Regions from separate parts of the Homo sapiens genome. Here region 1 is linked to region 2. A link means that fine-mapping ties the variant in region 2 to the expression of a gene that starts in the linked region. Tissue or cell type: whole blood. Region 2 holds a variant in brackets; the other region holds the start of a gene. All regions are shown on one strand. Distances are between the middles of the regions.

Evidence for each region. PIP is the estimated chance that this variant, and not a neighbour inherited with it, causes the effect.
Region 1: it holds the start of SYNE3, and the variant in region 2 is fine-mapped to the expression of SYNE3 in whole blood (TOPMed, PIP above 0.99).

The regions. Positions count from the first base shown.
Region 1 is chr14:95,512,411-95,520,410 of GRCh38, reverse strand. It overlaps SYNE3 (spectrin repeat containing nuclear envelope family member 3), which reads left to right and starts at 3,761. Exons shown (of 18, transcript NM_152592.6): 1 at 3,761-3,815. SYNE3-AS1 (SYNE3 antisense RNA 1) reads right to left here and starts at 4,291. Exons shown (of 2, transcript NR_188030.1): 1 at 4,191-4,291; 2 at 2,500-3,407. RefSeq lists an enhancer at 1,932-2,081 and silencers at 3,506-4,315, 4,065-4,359.
Region 2 is chr14:95,412,170-95,420,412 of GRCh38, reverse strand. SYNE3 (spectrin repeat containing nuclear envelope family member 3) reads left to right here. Exons shown (of 18, transcript NM_152592.6): 18 at 2,387-8,243. The coding sequence ends at 2,587. Among named protein-coding and RNA genes, the nearest start is that of LINC02292, 87 kb to the right of the region's middle. The variant G/C (reference allele first, on the strand shown) is at 3,689.

The sequences.
Region 1 (8,000 bases), 100 kb before region 2:
AGGCTCAGACCAAGACCTCTCTGATGGGGCACCCCAGAAGTGGGCACCCTTAATGTGAGCTTTTCATCCGTATTAAGCTGAAAGCACTTATGTACTTCACCACTAAGTGGGAAGCCAGGCTAGAGATGGAGAGATGGGAATGTAAATGTTCTGAACAGCAATTCCTATCCTGGAACCCTGGGCAATGCCCCTCGTCCCTACTCTCTTGCCTCAGTTTACCCATGAGGTGTTTTATTAGCCAGAAAAGCCATTGCAGCTTTTGTTGTAATCTATCTGTGGAGACTGAACACACACACACAAACAACTGAAAAAATCATGCTTACAAAATGAGGATTGTGCAGATTGCCACTGAAGCTGGCTAACCAACAGCAAATGTGAAACAGACCCAGATAATTTCCCCAGGCTTATTAAATTGATTCCTGCTTCCCCATGAGTGGTGGTGGAGATGCTGGCTGCAGGGAAGGGACAGAGGGAAAGAGTGGTAAAAACTTCGCTTTTTGGAGGACATTTGGTACGTTGCACAAACAGCCCGCGCTGCCAAGTGAGTCAGAACTTCCGAACAGCATAATTTTAGTGCCCTTCTTGTGGTTCCCTCTCTGGGCTGCTTCTGAAAGGAAGGTCTCAGGGCGGGGTTTCCTGTGTTCAATTCCAGAGATGACAAAGGGGCTCTTCCCCCAATCCTTTGCCAGATTTTTTTTTCCAGATGGGTTTTCATGTCCACCCCCTTATGTAGCTGCAGGTAATGCTGAAGACGAAGGTATTGTGGACTTCCTAGTTGTAAACTGCCCCATCCCTTCGCATTGCTTACTCAACTTTTGTTTTCCTTCCATGTGGACTACTTTGGAGAGAAAAAGATTGGCATCAAATAAAAAATAGGGTTCTGTTTTTGATGTGATGTTTATGTCAGGCTTAAGAAAAGTAATGGATGGCCGGGCATGGTGGCTCACACCTGTAATTCCAGCACTTTGGGAGGCCAAGCAGGCAGATATCTTGAGGTCAGGAGTTCGAGACCAGCCTGGCCAACATGGTGAAATGCTGTCGCTACTAAAAATACAAAAAATTAGCTGGGTGTGGTGGTGTGTGCCTGTAGACCCAGCTATTCAAGTGGCCGAGGCACAAGAGTTGCTTGAATCTGAGAGGAGGTTGCAGTGAGTCAAGATTGCACCACTGCACTCCAACCTGGGTGACAGAGCGAGACTCTAAGAAAAGCAATGGAATGGGAGAGTATTCTGAAAAGCAGCAAGCCCTGTAAAGCCCAAGATAATAACAATCACATTGATAATAACAAAACTATCTGCACAGTATTTTGTACTTTATAAAATATGTTTATCACATGTGTTTTCACCTATGAAAAATTATTGCTATCCCCATCTAACAGATGAGAAAAACCAATGTTGTAAGAGGTCACATTCAGTGTAAGATTAGACTGTATGTGCACACTGTATGTGTAACAGAATCTTACAGTGTAAGATTCACTCAGCTAAATAAGTAGCAAAGCTGGGCCTGGAAAGTGAATATCTCCACTGCTCTGAACTGGTGCTCTGCACTGCACCGGCAGCAGGAGGGACAGTTCATCTCTGTGCACCATGGTCCCCTGACACAGAATTATTACACCCTGACCTCCTTGGAGGTAGTAGTCTATGCCTCATTCTTCTTCATATTCCCAGAGACTAGCACATAGTAGATACTCAGGAATGTTTGACGAAAGACTGAATAGCTGTATGGCAGAAACTGTAGCAATCATACCATTCCCAGAACCATAACATAACAGCTCGCCTGAGTTGGGTGCTCAAATACCAGGCACAAAACCATACAAGATAAGCTCCTATTATTAGATCTATTCAACAGAAAAGGAAACCAAGTATGAGTAATCAGCTGAAAGTTGCAAATTGGGCACTTTGGCACTAGAGCCTGAGCTCCTAACTGTACCCAACCATCTCTTCCTGCAGGACATTGAGTTACAGTGGCCAGCTCCACCCTTGGAGCAGCCTGGGGGAGCCATCTCTCTCCTTGTGCAAGTCACCTGCCCTCTTTGTGTCTTGGTTTCCCTTGTCAGGCAAAACTCATTAAACTTTTCCTAACTACCTGGAGGATGTTTGCAGAGATTTAATGAGGAGACACATTTGAAAGCATTCTGAAAAGCAAAAAGCGCGATCCAGATGCAGGCATTATAATCATTGTTACTCGCTGCCTGCACCTGCAGTTTGACTGTGGCAACCTCAAGGCCTTCGGCAGCACTTCTAATTGAGCCACAGTGATAATAACACATATAATAGCATACTTGGAACCAGTCAGTCGCAGGGAGATGGGAGGGGCCCTGTGTATATCTTCAGCAACGCTGTGAATAATTACAGCTTAATAAATGGGATCTAACTAAGAGGTGTGGGTCTACCTCAGAGTGAATCCTGGGTTTTGGCTAATTCTTCTACCTCCCTCTCAATTTGGAAAAGACATACACACACACACACACACACACACACACACACACACACCGTTAACTATCTTGTCCTGCTTTACAATTTAATCTCTTAGGATACTGACTTTTACACGGATCTGTTCTACAAACATCTGCCATCCCTGCTAAGAAACAAAAAAGGAAAACAGCATCCCGGAAGCCCTGGATTTGGGCCAGTTACTAACCCCGCATCTGTAAAATCGCTAGCCGCACCTAAACTGTGATGACTGGAGTTCACATAAAACCTAGTTTTACAACTTGTATCCTTCATTAGTAGCGCTCATCTGATCCAGAGGCGGTGAAGCCAATCATGCAACCATGTAATTACTCGGAAAAAGATAAGGGTTGGGGCCCAGGACTGTTCAAAGCTGGGCTGGATGCACAGGAAGGCCAGTGACTGCTGACCTGGGAGGAGAGCGCCAGGGTGCGAAGGCTTCCAGCCATCAAGCAGTAGGAGTTTGGCAGAAGGCTGTGGAGCAAACGCCGGGCCAAGGCAACTTCATGTGCACAGGCACAGAGGCAGATACAGTTTAGACATTCTGGGACAAGGTTAAAGGGTTGGCGTGGCTGGAGCAGGGGTTGGGAGAGTGGGAGGATGTTTCTGCTGGTGGGGAGGGAGAGGTGAGGCGCATTCTGAGGCCTTGGGTTTGTTGGGGGTTCACATTATGCCTGGGGATTCACATCCCTTGTGACTCCTGGACTGTGGGCCCGGACTGTGGGGGTGGGAGAGGACGGGCAGGGTGCCACTACCCCCCACCCCGCCCTTTCTCCCCGCGCGAGGCTGGCTGATGAGTGTCATTTTCTTCTTGGATTTCGCGCCTACGGGCGGTGTGCCCCTTCCAAGGCCCCCACCTCCGCTCTGTGAGGGCAAGATCTGCCGGTGTCCTAATCCCTTTTCCATGTCTGGGCGCACAGATCCAACTTTCCCGGAGAGGCAGCTCCGCGCCATCCCCTAGGATGAGAAGAGGGTGGGTGGCTGTGTGTGTGTCGGGGAGACAGACAGGGGCCAGGGCTCCGGGCTGCTTTCCAGGCAAGCGTGGACAGGACCCCCCCCTTAACCCCCGCCCCGGGTCCGCGACAGGGAGCGGTGAGGCTTTTCTTCGGCCCTGGTCCCCGGGGCCACGCAGGATGTCCGCCGGGCTGGGGTTGCGCACCCGGGGCCTCCGCTGAGCGCGTGCGGAGAGGGGCGCGGCCTCTCCCGCGGGGCCACCGGGCGGGTCCCGGCGGGGGCGGGGGTACTCGCGGTGTCCGGGCCCGCCCCAGCCCTGCCCCGCCCCGGAGCCGCCCGGGACGCAGGGAGGAGGGAAGGAGGCTCGGCCCCAGCTACCCGCGGCGCCGCGCTCCTCCACGCTCCGGGAGGGTAAGTGGCACGGGGCCGGGAGGCCAGGCCTGGGGCCGGGGGCCGGGGGCCGGGGGCCGGGCGGGTGGGGTCCTCAGCCCCTGGCCCAGCTCTGACACAGCCCCGGGAATCGGGGGCGCCGAAAGTCTGGGGGACCTGGGGAGGCGCGCCCGGCGCGGGGGCGGGGGCCCCGGCGTGACAGCTGCGGGCGGGCGGGTATTTTTAGTTTAAATCCAACCGTTCTGTGCTGGCTGCGAAATTCCCGAGCCTTTCCTTTCAACCCCGGGGAGCTTCGGCCGGCCCACAAGAAAAAGCCCTAAAGCCCCGGGCAGCGCGCCCCAGCGGGCCGGGTGCCTCCTCGGGGCTTCCCTCTGCCTCCCCTAGGGGCGGGCTGACCTGTCACCAAGGCTTGCGCGCGGCGGGGGCCCAATCCGCTCCTGGCGACCGCGAGCGCGCTCAGTAGTGCCTGGGAGAGCAGAGCAGGCGGCGAAGAGGGGAAGTCCAACCCCGAATGCTCAGTTTCGTTCAGACGCCTTTTGGCTATGCAAACTTGGCAAGCAGCTCAACCTCTCTGAGCCTCATTCCCACATTTCTAAAGGGGAGGGCAGTGAGGCCAGAGATGGCTTGCAGGGCCTGAGAGAGCCTCAGATGGATGTTGACTTCCCCTGGGGTCTTGGGATCTTGACCCCAAACAGCAGACCCATTGATGTGGCCCATTGGTCAACCCGGGAGCAGTGTCCTACACCGCCCAGCTGACCTCTGCTTCAAAACTGGAAGCCAGGGGCCTCCAGCCTGGGCGGGGTGATAATGAATATTTTCAGTTAACCACTTTGGCCCTGAAGCTCCAACCCTGGGCTTTCCTGGGACTCTCCCAGGTTCCTGGTCACCCCTTTCAACTCTGAAGGGTCACCCTTATCCCTGCACTGGGTGGGGGGGCTTTCTACAGCCAAGGGCTGCTAGTGGGATAGCTTGATGTGTCTTGGGGGCATGCCCCATCCCACATGAATGAGGGCATGAGGAGAATGGACCGTCCTCCCAGAAAGGAGAGCATGTCATAAAATCACTGCCATTCTGAGCTTGGCAGGACAGCGTCCTTCATCCACCAAGAGAAGCAGAAACAGGCCCAGAGAGGGGGAGTGATTTGCCCAGAGCCACACTGCCTGGCTCTCTTGAAGGGCCTGGGCTTGCCGCCTGCACTTCCAGGGCAGCCAACAGCCCATAGGAGTCAGGAGCTGGGAGGTGGGAGGGGCATATCAGTGCCAACGAGCTGTTTTGCTCAGTTTCCTGTCACTGTGCCCCAGCGGGATGCTCCAGCACATGTGGGTCTGCACATTCCTCAGGCCGGACGGTGCTCGGCAGGCTGACAGCCACAGCTGTGCCAAGCCTGCTGGCCCCAGGCGTTGTTTTCAACCAGAGAGGCCCCTCTGGGGGTGGCTGAGCGGGAAGTGGGCTGGGATGTCTTATTTCTGGAACTCGTGTCTTGCTGGGGGTCCTGAGAAGAAGGCCTGAGGATGTGTTGGTGGCACAGAGGGAAGTGGTGAGAATCCAGGCTCAGGTTTCTGCCTCCAGGTACAGTCTGGCACCTGGCTCCCTGCAGGTACACTTCAGAGTGAGTTGGAGTCCTTTCTGTCTGTCTCCATGGGAACAAGGCTCCTGCTCGGGTGCTTTGCATGCTCTCCAGCAGCCATGGACCTGGCCATGCCTGGGCAGCCCCTTTGCCTTGTGATGCAGCCTGGAGCGGGCTGCCGGGGGGCCCTGGCTTGGCGGCCCCGGGAGGCAAGACTGGGCAGGCCCAGCTCAACGTCAAAAGCACCCTGGAGCCTTTGGGAACCCACTGGGCAGCTAGGCTTCCCGCATTGTCCAGCTGTTAGGAATGGGGCAGTCAAGTTGGATTGCCTGAGTCCAGTCCTGCCTTAGCCCGTTCCTGGCTGTGTAGCCTTGGGAAAGTTGCTTCACCTTTCAGAGCTTCAGCGTCCTTCCCCGTGGAAAGGGGCTAACCATAGCACGGCAGGTGTTGCCTCGCAGGGCCTCATGAGCACTAAACGAGCTTTGCCCTGATCAGCATTTTGTATGGTGTCAGACACAGCACATGTGAGAAGGTGTCACAGTTTGAGGCGAAGGGGCCTCGTCGGGATACCTGGGTTCCCCTCTGCTCTGCCTCTGCCCCTCTTCTCCCTGCCTTGATTTCCCCTTGTCTGTCAATGGTGGGTAGTCCTGGCTCACCCCCCTCATGGTCCTCCCAGCACTGAAAGCTGGCCCTTGGCCCCAGGGAGGGCAGGAGGCTCTTGACCCCAAACAGCTGACCCATTGATGTGGCCCATTGGTCAACCCAGGAGCAGTGTCCTACACCGCCTAGCTGACCTCTGCTTCAAAACTGGAAGCCAGGGGACTCCAGCCTGGGCGGGGTGATAATGAATATTTTCAGTTAACCACTTTGGCCCTGAAGCTCCAACCCTGGGCTGCCCTGGGACTCTTTCCCAGGTTCCTGGTCACCCCTTTCAACTCTGAAGGGTTCTAGAGAAGCCTACAGAGGGACTCAAATGTGTTCGTGGGGTCTTCCAAAGCTCTTCCTGCCTCTCACCTCCTAGGATCTGGTAGTAGGCAAGGCTGTCATTGCTTGCCCATTTACAGATGAGAAGGCTGATATCCAGCGGCTGGATGTGGTACAGCCAGGATTAGAACTAAGGGCTTTTGACCTGATGCTCTTCCTGGCACCACATGGCCTATCTTAGACAATCCAAGGACAAAGTTGTACGTTCATCACTGGGAAAACAGTACTGACCGGACAGGATGCTTGTCTTCATTAAGTCATCAGTACTTGCTGGAAAAGAATATGGATTCTGAATATATATATATATATATATATATATATATATATAATCTAAGCAGCCTGACTGGACCACAAAGATAGGAACCCAGGAGCAGCAGTGTTTCCTGACCCTCCCATCCTGAAAGGAACCTTTGCTTTAGGACTTAGGGATGATGTTCTGGGGCTGAGCAGCTAGGAAGCTAGGAAGTGGACGGGGGACAAGTTTGGGAAGCTGATGCCCTAATTTTGACCTCTTGAAATACTTCCCTTTTGGGGTTGCTGCGAAGATAATTGAGGTAACTGGGGATGATGCTTTAGCAGAATGCCCGGCATGGTGCGGGCACACCATAAATAGGACTGATGGTTTTTATTATTACTAACCCTCTACTATCATTGTAACACCAGAGTGCAGCCTGGATCTCTCGCCTGGGTTTCTAGGCTGCAGACGTGGTATAGAGAATCCTAGCATCTCCATGGAGAACTGCTAAGGCAATTATAAAAGCTCAAAACACAACCAAACTAAGCAATGAGTTGTTTAGTGACACATAGCTGAGAAGTAAAATGACGACAAAAAGCAAGAAGGTGATTAGCTTAAATAAAAGCCAAGCATTACCACGCGTGCTGAGGAAAGGTGAGAGAGGATCAGGAGAGTCGGGGGGGCAGTTACAAAGGAGATCACTTTGTAGTTACTGGCTAATTACATGTATGTTTTATACATGCCTTTATACGTAGATTCTATTTCACAAAGTTAAGCTGGTTTAAAAAAGAAAAAGGCAAGGGAATGATAATGCAAAATCAAGGTGATTATCTTTGGGGAGAAGTGGGTAATTGATCAGGGAGATGTCTGTTTCACTCTCAGTGGGATCCATTATGTTCTGTTTCTTCAGTCCAGTGGTAGGCTTGTGAGTGTTATTTTTTATTTATTTTATGTATGTATTTATTTATTTTTTGAGACAGAGTCTTGCTCTGTCACCCAGGCTGGAGTGCAGTGGCCTGATCTCGGATCACTGCAAGCTCCACCTGCCGGGTTTACGCCATTCTCCTGCCTCAGCCTCCCGAGTAGCTGGGACTACAGGCGCCCACCACCACGTCCGGCTAATTTTTTGTATTTTTTTTTTTAGTAGAGACGGGGTTTCATCGTGTTAGCCAGGATGGTCTTGATCTCCTGACCTCGTGATCTGCCCACCTCAGCCTCCCAAAGTGCTAGGATTACAGGCATGAGCCACCGTGCCCAGCCTATTTATTTATTTTTTTGAGACAGAGTCTCACTCTGTTGCCCAGGCTGGAGTGCAGTGGCACAATCTCAGCTCACAGCAACCTCCACCTCCCAGGTTCAAGCCATTGTTCTGCCTCAGCCTCCTGAGTAGCTGGGATTACAGGCATGTGCCACCATGCCT
Region 2 (8,243 bases):
TTTGGGAGAACCTTAATTACAGGTTGTTAGTTGCAGTGGAAACCCAGGCTGGGTGGCCCTCCAGCTCATTGTCTTGCCCCTTTTCTCTCTCCCTGGGTGGGTCTCATGGGTCAGAGATTTGGCCCCACCCAACCCAGCAGCTATGGGAAGAACCACCTTCTCTGTGAACTCACACTCATTCAGCCGCTTAAACAATGTGTCACCCACCCCCACCCTCCACTCCCGAAGTCACTGCTGAAATACATGCAGCCAAGAGTACTTATTCATGGTTATAATCAGCCTGTTTTATAAAATCAGTGTCTAAAGACTTTGGTGAGTGAACACATTTGAGACTGGAGGCACAGGGTTAAGCGTTATCATCTGGAGGGGATACTTGGAGCAGGGGAATACATGAGTTGACTCAGAGAGGAGAGGTAGAGAGACAGAACTGCCCAGGTTAGAACCTCCCAGGAACATTTACATTTAACAGTGCTTCTTCATCACCATCATCACCCTCACCATCACTACCACCACCACCATCACTATCATCATCATCACCATCACCATCACCTCCATCACCATCATCACCATCACCATCATCATCTCTATCACTCACACTTACCATCACCATCACAGTCACCATGATCATCACCATTATCACCATTTCCATGATCATTATCACCATCATCACCACCTTACTCTCACCACCCCACCCCCACCCCACCACCATTAGCGTCATGATCATTATCGCATCACCACCATCATCAAGCATCACTGCCATCATTGCCATCACCTCCATCGCCATGGTCACTATCACTATCATCATCACGGGACTGTGGCTTTTGGTGCCCTGGAGGGTGAACCTTGGTTCTTTAGGGAGCCAGCAGATATATTCTATAATAATAGTACTAGTGCTATGATTACTAATATTAATAGTGATGAATGTCACTAACAGTTACTAATAGTGCTAGCACTATTATTATAAATAAGTATTAATAGTACTAATAGTAAGAACTGGTACATTTATCAATCAAGGTATATATATACCTTTGCTTTGAGCCCTCACCACAGCCCAGCAAATAGGGGTAGGTGTTTGATCCCCATTTTGCAGAGCAGATAACAGAGGATCCAATATTGATTTGCCCAAGGTCACATAGCTGTTGAGTAACAGAGTCTGGGTGGGGACCCAGTCTGCTAGGATCCTAAAAGCTGGGCTCGTCCTGCACTCTGCAGCATCTTGACCATGAGGGCCTCACTCTTCTGAGTGACCAGCTCTTGCCCCTGCACTCCTTGGCAGTCAGACATCCATGAAGCCACAACCTGGCCAGTCCCTCCAGAACTTAGGAAATGTTTTCTTGGCCACTTTCAGGGACATTGTAGCAGAGAAGTCCATTAGGCATTTGGACTTGTGAGACTAACCTTCATGTGATACTGATGGCAATAGTGATGGTGATGAAATTGATGATGAAATAAAAGGAGGAGGAGGAAGAGAGGGAGAAGAGGGAAGGAAAGAGGGAGGAAAAGAAGAGAGGGGCCAGGCGCGGTGGCTCACACCTATAATCCCAGCACTTTGGGAGGCCAAGGAGGGTGGATCACGAGGTCAGGATTCAAGACCAGCATGGCCAACATGGTGAAACCCCATCTCTACTAAAAATACAAAACAATTAGCTGGGCATGGTGGCAGGTGCCTGTAATCCCAGCTACCCGGGAGGCTGAGGGAGATAATTGATTGAACCTGGGAGGTGGAGGGTGCAGTGAGCTGAGATCACACCACTGAACTCCAGCCTGGGCGACAGAGCGAGACTCCATCTCAAAGGAAAAAAAAGAAAGAAAGAAAAGGAAGAGGGGGAGGAAAAAGAGGAAAGGGAAGAAAGACAAGAGGAGGAAGAAAGTGACGATGATAAATTTGATGCTGGTGATGATGGTGATGACGAAGATTTAGATGGTGAAATATTAAGGATGCATACTAATCATGACAGCAGCTGGTACATACTTACTATGTGCCAGGCTCTGCCTCATTGGATCCTCATGACAATTCTGTCATGTAGGTGCCATTATTGCCCCATCTGAAGATGAGAAACTAGAGATTCAGAGAAGTCAAGTGACCTTAGGATTCACAGCCAGCACTCTGCTACACCAGGCAAAGATATATGTCACAATGGCAGAGCCTGCAACTGTGTTTTCTATTCTTCCTTTCATGCCTTGAATGCTTTGGGAAAACTGCAGAAACCCTGTTTCTGTTAAAACTTACATTAGCCCTGTTTCACAGATGAGAACCTGGAGATGTGTACTGTCATACAGTCAGTTCAGTGCTACCACCGCTCCTGGCATCCTCCTCGCCCCCTGAACCTGCCCCCCACCACCAGAGCCCCCCAGCCCACTCACCTGTGCTGTGTTGGTTCCGCAGACTCGGCGGTGGCGAGGACTGGGCTCCCTCTTCCGGAGGGCGTGCTGTGTGGCGCTCCCACTGCAGCTGCTTCTGCTGCTGTTCCTCCTCCTGCTGTTCCTGCTCCCAATCAGGGAAGAGGACCGCAGCTGCACCCTGGCCAACAACTTCGCCCGCTCCTTCACGCTCATGCTGCGCTACAATGGCCCACCACCCACCTAACCCACTGGGGCACACAGGTGACTTTCTCCTCCAACCTCCATCAGTCCCAGGGCCCCTCCTGAGGATGCTCGCCAGGGAAACTGGAAACAGGGGCAGGGCAAAGACTGCAGAGCTGCATCCATATCAGTGCTGTGTCAGCGTTCCCAGAAGACACTTACTTTTTATACAGTGTTGTCTTAGTCTATTTATACTAAATGTGTACTACATGTGACTAGGGAATAATGTCTAGAATTTTTATATGATCTGTATGTAAATGCTCAGTATGTATAATTTCATATACGAGTTCTATTTGGAGTTGGGAAAATTCCTAGCAATGGCTCCCTCCAATGGGATTTTGTGGTATTGTTGACTTGGTCTGCAGTCAACCCTAGAAAGCAAGAACAATAACATGTCACTTTCATGGCAACCTCTTCTCCAAAGCGAATCCCAGAATTCAGATGTAATGAAAGGCCTCTGAGCTGCAACGTGGAAGAGCGCCATAGACCCTCACTTGGTGCCCAGCGACTCTTGCTTTATGCGTAATGAGAACAAGTATGCTTGTCTAGTTTTAACAACCACAAAGAGTAGCTGCCACGTGTCAGAAGTAGAAATGGCAATGACCAGAGGCAGGTTCAATGATAGCAGTGACAAGTGACAGAGTGATATCGAGGGAGAAAAAGAAGAGCTGCAGAGAGCAGATCCCCGAACTAAGAAAGCACAGCTGTGTGGAGGCATTGCATGCCGGAGCCCTAACCCCAGCTCTCAGCGGCTTCTGATCACACAGACCTATGAGGACTGTCCCTGGTGATGACACCGAGCCCCCATGAAACGGTGAGATCCTGCTCTGTGTGTTTCATTCAGGGAGAAAGGGAAGAAGACAAGCTTGATTTTTAAGATTTCCATGCAGAATGGTGAGGCACACTCGGTGGGCAGCACCCACTGGCAGTGCCCAGGAAAGATGTGTTTCCTCTGTTGCTCCTGGACTGAGTTTTCATCGTCGAGAGCTCGAGCTGCAGGTGAGAAGGGAAGCATCTGCCACGCCAGGGGCCAGGGATCGAGGGTCCAGGACAGAGGTGAGAGAATCTGCTTTGGAGTTCAGCCTGTCTCAAGGGCTCTCCTTCC[G/C]CTTCCCAGAAAAGACTCTGGAGACAGCAGGTCTATGGGGCCAAGAAGGTCTCATGTGCATCCCCATATGGGACTAGGGCCCAGGCCACCCAAAACCAGGCCCTCTCCAGCCAGGTGTAGGCGAGCTGGGCTCCATGCACCACCTGGGCTGGGGCCGCGGTGACTCCATGTGAGTTCCCGAGGCCAGAAACTCATCCCTTCCTTGCCAGGGAACTCTGGGATGGTTCCTAAGTGCTCTACAACTGGATCATGTTTTTCCTAAATCAACACTAAATTTTCCCCTTTAAAAAAGTACTTAATGCCCACTCTCTACAAATGGATTTTGTCTGTTCAACTACAAATACGAGGGGATTTCCTCGGACCTTCTGTCCGGCTTTGGAATCATAAGGTATTATAGACCCAGAAAGGCCCTTTAAGTAGAGGGGAAACTGAGGACCTAAGAGGGCCTGATACCCAGCACCATTGCTGTCTCACACACACTGACCCTTTGCCTTTCACTGTGAGCTCTGCCCTTGGGGACCCGGGTCCTAGGCAACTAGGACATTTCACCGGCAGGAAACCCGTGCTGCCAAGGAGAGCCCTTGGGGCTGACTCAGAAAGCGTACTTTTTTTTTTCTTTTAACTCGTCTGTATTTGTTACAACTTTAAGCAGAATGTGACTTGGGCACTATATTTCCATCCACAAGCCTGGCTCTGAGTTATTATTATTATTGTTATTATAATTATTTTGAGATGGAGTTTCGCTCTTTTTGCCCAGGCTGGAGTGCAGTGGTGCGATCTCGGCTCACTGCAACCTCCGCCTCCCAGATTCAAGCGATTCTCCTGCTTCAGCCTCCCAAATAGCTGGGATTACAGGCATCTGCCACCATGCCCAGCTAATTTTTGTATTTTTAGTAGAGTTAGGGTTTTACCATGTTGGCCAGGCTGGTCTCGAACTCCTGACCTCAGGTGATCCGCCCACCTCAGCGTCCCAAAGCACTGGGATTACAGGCATGAGCCACCATGCCTGGCCATTTTTTTTTTTTTTTGAATAGCTTTATGATAAGCTGTAGGCTTATAATTATGCTCCTCCAAACAACACTTTTCTTTGGAAAACAAGCCCTGTAGACTCTCCATCCTTCCATCAAGTTCCTTCCCTCAAGCTGCTTCAGTTTAACTTATTTCTACAAGACTAGTACATGCAGAATTGGCAACTACAGGGGATGAAAAGTTCAAAAAGTAGATCCTACAACCCTGTGACTTGGTTTCCAAATATCTAGAGAAATTTGTGATTTCATGGAAGAAGAGAAAGCACACTTTTCTCCAGATATCTGGAAACCAAGCCATAGGGCCGTTCTCTGCAGGCGACCACCTTACTGGAAAATCAGGAGCTGAGTGAGCCCAGGCAGCCAAGCCCAGATGTCCAGTCCTGGAAGTCAGAGCAGTGGCAGGGTGGGTGGGTGGGGGGGCCTTGCCAGGTGTCCACTTTCCTATGTCACAGGTGAGAAAGCTGAGGCCCAGAATGGGGAAGAAACTGATCCATGGCCACACAGTGAGAGGCAGCAAGGCCAGAGCCCAACTGGCCACCATGGCCCTCAGGTGGTACCCTGCTCATTGTGGTATGATCCGCTCATGTCAGCAACTACATGAAAAAAACAGCCACTGGGCATGTATGCAGCCTGTCACATATACCACATGTTGGGGAAGGAGAAGCTGGAACATGCGGGCGGGGGTGGGAATATCTACCTATATTTTTTAAATTTTGATAATGATGCCATCAAGTCTGTTTGTTTGCATAACTGTTTTTTAAAAAAGAATTGATATTTTCAGTATTTTCATATAAATATACTTGTAATATAACGTAACAGCCCAGTTACTGGTGCTTCCAAGCACAAGTGCAATCTCCTTTGCTTAAAGGAGAGCCAGGCAATTATTCTTATGACTTTAGTTTCCAGCCTCTTTAACAGCCATGCAGAGCTTTAAGGTGCTACTTGAGAAAGGTGGCGCTGTGGCGTGTGTGTGTGTGTGTGTGTGTGTGTGTGTGTGTGTGTGTGTGTGTCAGAGAGAGAGAGAGGAGGGAAGGAGAGGAGGGAGAAAGGACCACCAGTGGGTCGGTTGATGAATTAGTTATCCCTGCTTACCTGTCCCTCCCACCCCTTTCTTTCTTAGCCCGTTCTCTGCATGTGGAAAGGCACATGCAGCACCCAGAGGGTGTTTAAAAAGAAAAGCTGGGAGCGGGAGGGATGGGCAGGTACTGACAGCAGACGAGGCGAGGAGACCCTGGGAGGTGCCCAGTGGTGGCGGGACAGAGGGAACACCGACAAGGGAGACAAAGAATGTGCTCGTTTGGTGCTCGTGGGTGCTTGAGCCCCTTGGGCGGCACTTTGCAGCCTTGCTTTATGTAATTCCCACATCGACACCTGCCCCCAGGGTTTGATACTGTTTTACCCCCATGTTTGAGATGGAACCCTGAGGCTTAAAGATATAAAGACCCTTGCTCATGCTGAAGTGGGTCCAAACCCACAACATGGGGCAATGAGGACCCCAAAGCCCAGGCTGGAGGGGGGCTTCAGGCTGGTTCTACCAGGTTGCAGTCTCTGTAGCCTCTGGGAATGGAGTTCCCTGGGCAAGCAGGCAGAACTCTCTGCCCATCAGCTCGCCTGGGACATGGCCAGAGCGGAGCATCCAAATGTTTCCCTGAGGGACTGCCCTCAGCTCTGAGATGAGTCACCACCAGCAGCACATTCCCTTGGGCCATCTATCATTATCTTCACATTGCTCACCTGGAAGATGAGCCCCTCTAATGTCTCATGATGAGGTCCTCGGTCATGAATGACAGAACTCCACACCCCCAATGCCCAGCACAGGATAAGAGCTTCAGCTGTGGTTTGTTGAATTACATTAAAAACCCAAAGGCAAATGTGTTTCCTGACACCCGACTCCCTTCCAGAGGAAATGGGTCAAGGATGACCTGACCCAATTCCATCTCTCAGGCCCCGTTTGCTTCAGGCAGCTGGCTGGAGTTCCCTGCAGGGACCGGGGGTCCAAAGATGCTTGTCTCCGGGCATCTTCAGGGGAAGGAAGCTGGGGACCCTCTGCACCCTGGGGGCCAAGGAGAATGACAGGCAGAGGGCAGGAAAAGGCCTGAAGGCGGGTGGTTTGTGCTGGATGTTCCCTAATGGATTTTACAGCTGGCAAACTGGGACCGGTGGCATCATCCTGCCCTGCCTTGCAGGGGATGGGAGGCTGGGGCTGCCCACAGTTAGGGAGTAAAGAGGGGATCTTATCTCTTCCATTAGACTGGAGCCAGGCCTGACTGGGAAGCTGGGAGGCTTTGCAGAAGCTTTGAGGAACTGCACTTTATGGTGGTCTGGCTGGAGAGGGCGGACGGGGAAGTGGGCCAGAGGGAGTCAAAGGCCAGAGGTGATGTCAGGCTTGATTTACTGAACTGTGTGCTTAAAAGTGGTTAAGATGCTAAATTTTATGTTATGTTTATTTTACCACAATTTGAGGGTGAGAGGAGAGAGTGAGAGCAAAAGAGACAGAGAGAAGAGAGAGAAAAGGAGGAAGGGAGGGAGGGAGGGAGGGATAGAGAGAGAGAAAAAGAGAATGGGAATGGCAGGCTGTGCCTTCATGGTTCCCAACTTTCCTCTGAGGACAAGCGCTAGTGGCAAAGCTTTCACTGACCAAAGGCAAGTGAAACAATACGAGGGAACAACTTGAGTTTTTCTTTCCATAGGATTTATTTTGCCCAAACGCTGGCTCTTCATTCTGGGATTATGTCCCTCCTACTTCAAGGGTGCTCAATGGCCTTTAGGAAATGAGGGATAGGTAAAGGTGGCTCTGTCTTCTTTGATGGTTTCTATTGTGTTTTGGGAGCCCTCATTGGACAAAATAAAAAGTTGCCAACTCTATGTTGGTTTTGCTCCCCATACAGTATTCTTCCTGGAAAAACATGCTGTCTGAAAGTTTGGGAACCCAGGAGATGGTTGGGAGAAGAGAGCAGCTTGAGGATTGCTTAGTGCAGGAGTCCCCGAGGGAGAGAAGGAAAGAGAAATGGGAAGAGGGACATCGTGGAAAGTTGTGGCAACTGGGTTCAGGGGAGGCCAGGAGCCTGCCAGCTGTGGCCTCTAAAAAAATAAAACCCAGGTGCTCACTGGCCCTGCCTTCCCACTGGCCATTCGGATGCTGTCCGGGGTCTGCGGCTTTCTCTCCCCTGGTTGGTGGGCAGAAGTGCCCTGTGCCTCTTTGCATCTTAATCCAATGCAACAAGCATTCTCCAGCCTGTGCCAGGCTTTGTGCTGGGAGATTCGGGGTGAACAAAGCCCAGTCCCTGCCCTCAGGGAGCTTGCAGACGAAGAAAAGGGTTTGTGCCATTGAAGATGCCCAACGGGATTGCAGTCATTGCCCTTGACTTTGCCCATCTGCCTTTCCAGAGGGGGCAGGCCCACTGTCACAGAAACTGGAAGAGCCACACAGGGGAGACAGTGGGAGAGCTCGGAACAGGGCATGAGAGTGTCTTGCTGCCTCTTGGAGGCCACCATTGTGACTATGAACCATACCGGGCAGAGGAAGT